Linked DNA regions of Homo sapiens: region 2 is linked to region 1. The links come from fine-mapping of genetic effects on gene expression. A gene starts in region 1. The other region holds a variant in brackets. All regions are shown on one strand. Distances are between the middles of the regions. Region 1 holds the start of CABLES2 (Cdk5 and Abl enzyme substrate 2). Region 2 overlaps LOC105372708 (a long non-coding RNA gene).

What was found. PIP is the estimated chance that this variant, and not a neighbour inherited with it, causes the effect.
Region 2: its variant is the best candidate, but not a certain one, in a credible set for the expression of CABLES2 in whole blood (TOPMed, PIP 0.70).

The regions. Positions count from the first base shown.
Region 1 is chr20:62,404,197-62,409,554 of GRCh38, forward strand. CABLES2 (Cdk5 and Abl enzyme substrate 2) reads right to left here and starts at 3,089. Exons shown (of 10, transcript NM_031215.3): 1 at 2,719-3,089. The coding sequence starts at 3,080. LOC105372709 (a long non-coding RNA gene) reads right to left here and starts at 2,698. Exons shown (of 2, transcript XR_936967.3): 1 at 694-2,698. RefSeq lists a silencer at 3,006-3,255.
Region 2 is chr20:62,371,466-62,376,823 of GRCh38, forward strand. LOC105372708 (a long non-coding RNA gene) reads right to left here. Exons shown (of 2, transcript XR_936966.4): 2 at 2,350-5,358. Among named protein-coding and RNA genes, the nearest start is that of LAMA5, 6.8 kb to the left of the region's middle. RefSeq lists enhancers at 1-247, 2,930-3,533, 3,534-4,135. The variant T/C (reference allele first, on the strand shown) is at 2,419.

The sequences.
Region 1 (5,358 bases):
TGCTCATCTCACACTGACTCCTGCCACATACCTCACCAAGCCCTGGGCACGCATCTGACCTCTGACCTCAGGGAGGCCATGCTTAGTGCTTAGTGTGAACCCGCTTCTCAGAGGAGATTGAGGCTCAGAGAGGCCATGTCACCTGCTCAAGGTCACAGAGGTACTGAACAGTGCAGCTGGGATTCCAAGCCAAGTCTGTTCCCAGAGCCCAGGTCAAACCACCACACTCACAAGACCAACATCAGGGCTGCCTTCAGGACTTTCAGAATTCTCTCCATTTCCTGAAACCAACTCATCCTAGAACTCTCAAGCCAGGAGCTAGCAGCCCCTTTTGCCGGGGCAGCCACCCTTCCCTCGATCAGCAGCCAGGCCCAGGGAACGCAGGGTGAAATGGACGTCCTCACGCTGGGGTCTACCTATCAGGGAGGGGCCATGGCCCTCAGAAACAAGGTCAGCACCACGAACTTGGCAGCAGAGCCCCAGGAGGGACGCCTCCCCCTCCAGGAACAGAGTGGGGTTCAGGAAAGACCTGAACAGGGACATGGGGGCCAAGGAGGAGGGAAGGGAGGAGACAGCCCTGGGCAAGGCAAGGGGTGGTGGCGCTTGGGCCCATGGTGGGTACGGCAGGAGGACTGCAGGCACCCAGCCCATGCCACGTCCCATCCTGTCCCAGGGATGCCGGCCACAGCGCACCTTCTAACAATCCCACAGGGCAGGGATGTGCTGCACGTGGGCAGCATGCTGCGCTCAGAACTGTCACCATGGAGGCTCTGGGCCTGCAGGGGGTGCCTTCTCAGTCACAGGCACTTCCCTGCGCGTCGCCACGCTCTGCCTCCCTCCACTCAAGTGGGCTCCACTCCACGCCAGGCCTGGTGCACACAGGGGTGCATGAACTCTGTGGAAGGAGGGCCTATGACAGCACCCAGTCTGCCTGGTGTCACCATCCGGTTCTGGACACTCAACATGCAGGACTGAGGGAGAAAGCTGTTTCCATGTCAAACAACAGGGCCCGGGGTTAGGGAAAAGCCCACCACACCTGCGGAGCTCGGCCCGTTGGGGTGAGCCCGCTTCCCCTGGAGTCCACACCTTAGGGCCTTGCCGCTCTGCCCTGGAGAGTCACCACCTTGTTCCATCTCTCCCGCCTTCCTGAAGGAGCTGGCCATGCCAAATGCATGGGGCCTGGCTGCCACATTTGGGCAAATCCATCCCTCTGCCCCAATCATCCCTCTGACCCTCCCTGGAGCAGCGGCCAGGCATGTCCGTGGGGGGACATCTTGTGGACAGGCCTGGGTCTGCAGGCACCCTCAGCCTGGCTACGGCCAGGAACACTTCCAAGGATGGAGTGCACCGCGACCTGCGTGTGACGCAACCTGCATGTGACGTCATAGTCTTTGAGGACAGAGTGCTGTGTTCTGGGCCCAAACTTCCCCAACCAAAGACCTTAGAGGAACCCAATGCCTCCACCTGCCCGAAGGCCAGGGGCGTGGGGCAACTCTGATGACCTCCAGGTAAGCAAGGAGCACGTGCCAGCCTTGACCCAAGAGCTCTGTGTCGGCCCCTTTGCTGCACACCTGCAGGGGCTGCCTCTGGGAACAGCCGCCCAGCAGGCACTTGGACCTGTGGACAGTGGCTCCCTTTGAGAAGGAACCGCAACAAGCAGCCAGTCCTGGGCCCAGAGCCCACAGTCACTCCTGGAGGTGAGGGCTGTGGGAGGCAGGGTCACCCAGGTCCTGTGGTCTCTGGGAGAAGGACACAGGGTGTCGGGCAGCCAGGGGCCATCTGGGCAGGGGGCACACGCTGGACAGGCAGGGCTCATGGTTGGGGTTGCCCTGGGATGGGCTGAGGTGGTTCCCAGAAATGGAATCAAGGCAGGGGGAGCAGTGGAGACCCAGGGTGTGACAGACCCAAAGATACCGAGCTGAGAGTGATGTGGGGAAGGGCGGGGCTCAGCAGGGAAGTGACAGGGAGAGGAGGGGTGCCAGAGACCAGTGGCTGTGGGATGGGAGATGTGGCTGTGCAGGGGCCTCTGGGAACAGGTGTCAGTGACAGTGCCAGGAGGACCCCGGCCCACATGCTGGGTCTGAGGAGGTGGGCATGGACGGTGTGGCCCGGTTCAAAGAATGCGAAGAGATGCACAGGGCTGTCCATGTGTCCCTGTGTCCCGGGCACTGGTACCAGTGGATGGGGGTGGGGGCATGTCCAGAACCCACAGGGCTGGGGGTCTCAGGGGTAATAAGGGCTGAACCCTAAAACCCATTTCAGAGCACTGACAACGTGGAGATCCAGACCCCGTATTCAGGGGCTGGGAGAATTCAGGGGACAATGAACCCTATGTGTGGGGGGTGACAGGGCCTGAGGAAACCCTCAGCCAGCCCAGGAACCCCCAGTTCTGTATCCAGGACTGACAAGGTCCCAGGTGAACCCAACCCCTGTGTCCTGGGCTGATGAGGGCCCAGACTGACCCTGACCCCTGTGTCCTGGGTTGACAGGGGCTCAGGTCACCTGAACCTCTGTCCAGGGCTGACAAGGCCCCAGGTGAACCCAACCCCTTTGTCCTGGCCTCTGTCCAGGGCTGACAAGGCCCCAGGTCACCTGACCCCCTTGTCCTGGGCTGATGAGGCCCCAAGTAATCCTGACCCCTAGTCCTGGGCTGATCCGGCCCCCGTCCCCGTCCCTGTACCCCGCGTCCTGGGCTGACCTGGCCGGGCCCCCACTCACCTCTGGCGCTGCCCATCCAGGCCGAGGCCGGTGGGCACCTGCGTGGGGCTGAGCAGGCCCTGGGGCGCGGGGGTCCTGGCGGGCAGCCCGGTGGGGGGCTCCGGCGGCGGCGGCGCTGGCGGTTCGCGGGCCTCGGCGGGCGGCGGCGGGGGCTTCTCTCCGCCCGGGCCCAGGCTCGGGGGCCGCCCGTCCAGGGAGATGTTGTTGAGGAAGAAAAGCGCGGCCTGGCGGCGCCGCGAGTCCCCGCGCCTCCGCAGCGCCTGCGGCGGGGCCCGAGCGGCCGAGGTCGGCGCGGCGGGTGGCGGGGGCCCGGCGGGGCCGGGGGCCGGGCCCGGGGCTCCACCGGCCGCGGCCGCGGCCATCCTCAGACTGCGCCCGCCGCCGCGAAGCGCCCCACCCCCTGCCCGCGCGCCCGCGCGCCCGCCGCCCATTGGCCGCGGCGCGCCCACATGCAAATGTATCGCCGTCGCGCTCTCCCATTGGCCAGCGAGGTGCCGCGCTCAGGGCGCTCCCCTGGGTCCTAGAGGCGGTCGGACGCAGCAGCAGGGAGTCGGGAGCTGCGCGCCTCCCCGCCGGTTCGAGTCCCCGTCTTGGGACCTGCGGCCGCGGGGCTCTCGCTTTCTGTTCCCTTTGCTGTATGGCGGCCTTCGCGGATGGCCTCCATCGAGCGCACATTTTAAGGCTCCGGACCCAGGGCGGCGTGGGTGAGGCCCCAGCACACTTCCCTGTCCGGAGGTGTGTCTGGGCGGCGCTTCAGCGGGCGCAGGGCGGCCCCTGGAGGAGCCCCACCGCTTCCCGGAAGGGCCCGCGTGCCATCTGGCCTCCTTCATTGACAGAAGGGAACGAGGGTCTGAGTGGAGAAGGCACCTGCTTGGGATCAAAGCCCCAGGCAGAGTCCTGCACTTCCTGCAGTAGCAAAGTGACCTTGAGCCTGCCTTGTGCCCAGGCCTGTTTCCTCTCTGTGCCTGGGTGCCCCTGACTTCAGAACCTGTGAGCCCGTGGCACCGGGATGGTCAGGGCCTGCCTCTGGAGCCCGGGAGCCTGTCTGCAGTCTGGAGGGGAACCCGCTGTATCTTTGTGGAGGGACTCAGGACCTTGCACCCACCTCTGTGTCACCTGCCTGCTCTGTCCAGCTTTCTTTCATGGGTTTACGTATCTTTAAAGAGGGGACAATGATTTCAGCCTCAGGGTACTGTCAGGATGAAACTGGCTCAGTGAGGGGGTCGGGCTGTGGCCGGAGGCCAGGCACATGCAGTGGTCAGTCCGCGAATGCGCTGCAGTACCTCGCACCTGCCCGCATGCGCCCAGCCTCTCCTGTGCTGGGTGCTGGGGACCCGGTGGGACCGACAGGCACAGCGCTGGCCCTAGGAGCACCTGGTGTGTGGGGAGGCAGCATGATGGCCAACAAGGCAGTGGGCGAGTGGGCAAGACAGGGTCTTCATCACCACCCCTAGCATGGGCCCCTGCCCTTCAGGCCCCTACCCACCTCCCGCCTGCCTGCTCCCTCCTGTGGGCCTTCACGGGCCACCATTGGGGCTCACGCAGCATGCAGCACCTCCATTTCCTTTCCCTCCGCCCTTCCAAGTTGGCCTCCAAGGCCTCTGCCAGGCCTAGGGGAAGGTGGGCAGCTGTCCTGTCTAGGAGAACGCGGGGCTGGGTGGCATAGCAGAGGGGTGGCTGCGGATTCTGGATCCACAGAATGGGGTGCTGACTTGTGTGCCTGGGGGCTCCCGTGAGCGGGGAGTGAGTGTGTCCAGCGCTGTAGGGTGCTGAGGCTGGGGCAGGCACACAGTGGGCCCTCCATCCCTGCTGGCTATCACCAGGAGGAGGGGCCTGACAGGGGAGGGTGGGCCATACACCAGCAGCTTGCAGAGAATCTGGTGTCAGATGAGAACAGAAAGGGGCGAGTGAGGGTGGAGGGCAGGACGCAGGAGGCAGGAGGCAGCTGTCCGTGCTGGCTGCAGCGCCGGGTCCTGGGGATCGGCTGTGCAGTAGGGGGGCCCCTAGCCAGTTCTTCTTTGCTGGCGCTAAGCTAGACTTTGAGGGACAAGGAGGAATGCTGAGGAAGGAACGGGGTCTCTTCCTGGGTCTGGTGAACCCCCTTGCTAGGCTCCCGCTGCCAGTCTTCTCCCCTCCCCAGGGTGTCGATGGGTGGCCAAAAGCCAACCTGGCCTGCGGGCAGTGTGTAGGGAACACACGGCTTTTGTTTCGTGTGATTCTGGAGAAATTAAAGCAACCTTTAACACACCTGGACTTCCCTCTTGGGAGTTCAGTCCCTCTGGCCTCTCAGGACAACAGGCAGACATGTCACAGGCTGCAGGTGGGAGGCAGTGCCCCCTGAGTCAGGCCCGCACCCCAGTCTGGCCCAGGCCTCACCCAGCCCAGTCGTTGGCCCGTGTCCTGCCATCCCTGTGATGCGTGGTTTTAAATGCCCAGCTCACCTTGGTGCTTTGGCTGCAGAGGGCCCTGCTCATGAGTTTCGCTCCTTATTTTCTTTGGCTCTCACCCTGAACTCTGAGCAGGTGTCAAGCGCAGGGCTCTGTCTGGATGCTCCTGACTGCAGGCCTGGCCCTTGGGCTGACTTCTTAGTTTCCCCCTTGCCCTGGCACCCCTCCGTGGCCCCCACCTTTCCTTTCTGCC
Region 2 (5,358 bases), 33 kb before region 1:
GGGGTGCAGACAGGCTTAGGTGGTGCCCAGTGTCGGAGATCTGGAGAGGGTCAGCATCCGGGCTCCTTGGGCTCTCCACAGATGCTCCCCGAGGCTCCTCTTGCCCACCCAGCTCCTTTTCTTCCCAAGTGGCAAGGAGAAGCGCTTGGGCTGGTGCCCTGTGCAGGCGGGCCCAGCCCCATGACAAGCAGGCAAACCTGGGGTGCTCAGAAATGGGGGGGCCTCATGGAGCTCTGTGGGGTGGTCTGCGTGGCGACCGAAAGTCCAGAGTCCAGGATCCCACCTGGATGCCCCTGCCCCGGCCTGGGCCTGTGTAGCTGGGTGTAGGGGAGCCTCCACCCTGCCAGCCTTTAGGAGGGAAGGAGTAGGGGGCCCTGGGAACTCCCAGGGAGGGGGCCCGGGACCTCCCTGGGATCTAACCACCTACAACTTGGCAGGGAAGGGGCCGGTCCAGTAACAAGGTTGCTCCCAGGACCCCAACCCATCCCCTCCCTCAAGTGGGGGCCCCTGTCAGGGCACCTCCCAGCACCTTGCTGGGGTGTGAGGCAGAGTCCAGGACTCCTGCCCCCAGATCTCTGGGGAGCCCCAGAAAAGGCATCGCCCGGGGTAAACATGCAGTGGCACACGGCTGCAGCGTCCACCCCGAGGCCGGGCACCTACGCTTCCACGTGTCACCTTAATCTTATTTAATTGCGGTCCCCCTACCCCGTACCCCCATTCTTACCACTTGCTTGCCTCAGGCCTAGACTGGGGAGCCCTAGTGAGCTCCAGGGGCCAGGAACCCCAGGGGAAACAGGCGGAATGGGGGCGCCCCAGCATGCTGGGCAGGGTGACTCGGGACCCTGAGCCTCTACCCCTGGGGCCTGGCCTGCCTGTGCCCTCCTCCCCCACAGGACCACGGCTCCAGCAGGCCCTCCCCTGCCTCTGTCCTTGCCTGGCTGAGCTCTGGTTCTCATAGAGGGTGGGGCGGGTGGGGGGTGAGGGTTCTGAGCTTCTCCAGGAGGTGCCCACAGACGGCCTTATATGGCCAGAAGGCCTCGAAGCCCAGGAGGAATCTGACTTCCCAGGAGGGCCCAGTGGGCAGAGCCAGAGCCTGGGCAGGAACCTGGGACTGCGCCCTGGGCGAGGCCAGGGCCCCCACGAGCCCACCCTCAAATGTCTCCCATGAACCCAGCCTCCTGGGCTGAGAACCCCTCAGAGGGAGGCAGCTTGGCCCGGCCCCTCACCGACCTTGGGACATCTGGCTGGGGGTCCCACATGGATGGGAACACCTGCAGCTCTGCAAAGGCCCCTCCTCAGGACAAAGGCCTCCCCTCATCCGGGTTGGCTTTCCCGCACTGCAAGGGCAACTCCCCAGGCCCCACAGTCAGCCGCTTCCAGCCTCATGGACGCCCACGGGGCTTCATCCCCTCTGCCTGCGCCCTGGTGTGTGCCTTGGCTAGCCAGGGTCCCTGGGGCAGAGGGAAGCGTCCCCCTCCCACCCCTCCCTCTCCTGACTCTCTCCCTCTGACTCTCTGCCTCTCTGTCTCCATCTGTCTGTCTCTGTTTCTGTCTCTATCTCTGTATCTCTTTCTCTGTCTGTTTCTGTCTTCAACTCTCTGTCTCTATTTCTCTGTCTCTATCTCTTTGTCTATCTCTCTGTTTCTCCGTTTCTGCTTGTCTCCATCTCTCTCTCTATTTCTGTCTCTGTCTCTATCTCTTTGTCTATCTCTGTTTCTCCGTTTCTGCTTGTCTCCATCTCTATTTCTGTCTCTGTCTCTATCTCTTTGTCTATCTCTGTTTCTCCGTTTCTGCTTGTCTCCATCTGTCTCGATCTCTGTCTCTTTGTCTCTGTTTCTCTCTGTCTCTGTATCTCTCTGTCTTTGTGTCTCTCTATCTCTCTTTGTCTCTCTTGCTCTCTTTGTGTTCCCCCCGCTGCTGCCCTAGCCCTGCCAAGCTCAGCCAAGGGTCTTAGGGATCACAGGTGTGAGCCTCGGTCACGTTCACTAGGGATCGCGGGTGTGGGCCTCGGTCACGTTCACTAGGGATCGCGGGTGTGCGCCTCGGTCACGTTCACTAGGGATCGCGGGTGTGCGCCTCGGTCACGTTCACTAGGGATCGCGGGTGTGGGCCTCGGTCACGTTCACTAGGGATCGCGGGTGTGCGCCTCGGTCACGTTCACTAGGGATCGCGGGTGTGGGCCTCGGTCACGTTCACTAGGGATCGCGGGTGTGCGCCTCGGTCACGTTCACTAGGGATCGCGGGTGTGGGCCTCGGTCACGTTCACTAGGGATCGCGGGTGTGCGCCTCGGTCACGTTCACTAGGGATCGCGGGTGTGCGCCTCGGTCACGTTCACTAGGGATCGCGGGTGTGCGCCTCGGTCACTTTATTTGACTGGATCGAACGTGGGGCTTGGCTTAGTCTGGGGGCTGGTGCCA[T/C]CACTGGGACACAACGGGCCACGGTTCCTGCCCAGGAGCTGGTCCAGATTCTGCAGTGAACCAGGATCCCAGGAGTGACGGCTCCCAGGCCGCGCACTTCCACACTGAAAGTGCCATCCACAACAGGGATGGGCCCTCTGTCCTTGCGCCCTCTGCCCGGGAGGCATGTTGCTGCCCCCGGCTCACAGAGGACAGTGCAGCGTGTCCTTGGGCGTCCAGGATGAGATCTCCTGACCCACATCAGCCCCCCAGACAAAGCACATAAGGCAGAGGCAGCTCCGTGTGCTCACTGCTGCGTCCGAGCCCAGCGCTGGGCTGCTGGACGATGGTGGCTGAATGACCGATCGCCCCTCTCCCGTCACCTTCCCACTGCCCCGGGACCCACATCCTCCCACACCAGGCGTGGCAGGCAAGGGCCCAGTGCCCAGACTCCAGCCTCTTTTTATGCCCGCCTGAGGCCCACACCGTGATCCTCACTCTATAGCCACCAACAGAATCAGGAAATAAGACAATAACAACTACAGGCAGGATCCTGCGGGGACCAGTGTGGTGTCCAGTGTGGGAGCTGCTAGGACACCAGCTGGTGGTTCCTCAAAGGACTGAACACAGTTGCACACGGCCCAGCAGCTCCACACCTGGTAGCTGCAGAGAGAAGCGTAAACACGTCTCTGCACAGACACTCGTGGGTAAACACGCACGGCAGCGCCAGGCACCAGAGCCATCAGGCAGAAACAGCCCGAACGGCCATCCAGGGTCGACTGGGGAGAGAAACGTGGTCCATCCACACAGTAGACATCAGTGGACAGGAGCGGCACTCTGTACAGGCAGGCTCTTGGAGGGGCTGCCCAGGGACCAGGGACCGGAGGCCTGGGATGTGCCATGGCCACTGGCCCCTCGCCAGTGTGGAGGGGGAGAGGGAGGAGCACGTGGATGCTGAGTGAGCCTGCAGAGCCAGTTCAGGCGGGCAGGTGCCTGGGAGTCTTCAGGTGGAGGTCAGTAGAAGCAGGGTACTTCTTGGTGCTTATGGGCCACCCACACAGCCTGCCAACACCAGCTGGACCTGTGCTCATGCACAGAGAGGTGGGGGCCTGTGTTTAGGGCCATCACATACCCAGGACACCCAGCCCTACACACTGACTCAGCCTGGGGCGGGAGAGACAGCCCCGCAGCTGCCTCTGTCTTCAGCCCGGTCTGCCAGGAGCCTGAGTTACTAGGCAGGTCCAGGGCCTGACCCCCGTCCCCTAGGGTCTTCATTGATTCAAACCGCCAAGCAACACCTCAGCCACCTCCACCTATTGCCAGCCCAGTTTCACGAAAGGAAGGCTGAAAGGTGGGAGGATGGCAGTGCCACTGAATCCCCTGGGCTGGCTGCCCCAGCTCCGGCAGGAAGATGCCCCAGCTGGGCCCCCATGTGCCTGTCCCCTGCCAGGAGGGGGAGGGGGAGGGGGTGGGCCAGGTGAGGAGGTAACCCCAGGATCCCACTGGGCCCCCGATGTGTGGAGGGGCAAAGTGTGGGTGGGCCCACTCCAGGCCTCTGTTTGCCACAAGTTCCAACATTAAGAAAATATTTGCAGCTCTTCTGGGGAGCTATTTCCTGGGGGAATGTAAACACACGGAGACTTGGAAGGCTCCCGCTGACCACAGATGGTGCTGGGGTCCACTGGGGGCCCACGTTTCCTCTCGCAAGGGATCTGGACCACCCCCGGCAGCCAGGTCAGGGGTCTGTGCGTGGCCTCCCATGGGGCTCTCTCTCAGAACCCGGGAGTGGCAGTGGGGATGGCGTGCAAGAGAGCAGCTGCCACGGAGCCTCCTGGCGGCCAGGGTAGGGCCTGTCGGCCCAGTTGCCCACTGCCTGCTCCTGGCTCCACAAAGGGCTTGCTGGGCAGCTTCAGGTCAGAGGCGCAGCCCCCACCTCCAGCCCCCTGAACATGTGGGGGTTGTGTTTTCTTGACCTGGGCCCCCCCGTGCCTCCCTCCCACCTCTGTGCAGGAGAGCCAGGCAGCCCGTGCAGCCGACATCAGGCCGGGCGCGGAGCTGGCTCCCATCTCCTGCGAGGGACCTGCTCTTGTTTTTTTTTGTTTTTTGAGATGGAGTTTTGCTCGTCGCCCAGGCTGGAGTGCAGTGGCGCGATCTCGGCTCACTGTAACCTCTGCATCTCGGGTTCAAGCGATTCTCCTGCCTCAGCTTCCTGAGTAGCTGGGATTACAGGTGCTCGCCACCACGCCCAGCTAATTTTTGTATTTTTAGTAGAGACAAGGTTTCACTATGTTGGCCAGGCTGGTCTCGAATTCCTGACCTCAAGTGATCCACAGGCCTCATCCTCTCAAAGTGCTGGGATTACAGGTGTGAGCCACCGCCTGGCCCCCTTGTTATCTGTATTTTACAGATGGGGAGGCTTGGTTGCAGGTGAAGTGTGGCCATGTCCTGCCAGCCCCCCGGAGCTGGTGAATCCCTGCCTTATCTGCAAGTGGCTTCTCCCCACACAGAAAGGCGAAAGGCGACCTCCGCCTGAGTGTTCCAGCAAAGGCCGACTGGCTCAGCTCCAATATGCTGAGCTCGGCAGAGCCTGGACAGGGCTCCCCAGGCCCCGCAGGAGGCTGGCGCAGGCCGCAGGCTGGCCTCCCTATCTCCACCAGGAATGCACTGAGCCCCTGCACCCCTGCCCACCCAGGTGGAGGAATGTGGCAGGGGCTGCTGGGAACTCGGAGCCTGGAGGAGGGCTTTTGAGGCCTCTGCCTCCTGGAATTCCCCAGGCCTGGCACCAGGCGGCTGCTCCCTCAGGATCCGCCTGCCTCGGCCTGCCCCCAGGCGGCCGTGCTCTCAGATTCTCCTCTTCCCAGGCTGTGGGGACCTGCAGAGGAACCGGGCCATCTCAATTCCGCTCACTCTGTGAAAGTCCCCTGCTCAGAGAGGCCTTCCCTGGCCACCCTGCCCCTGGAG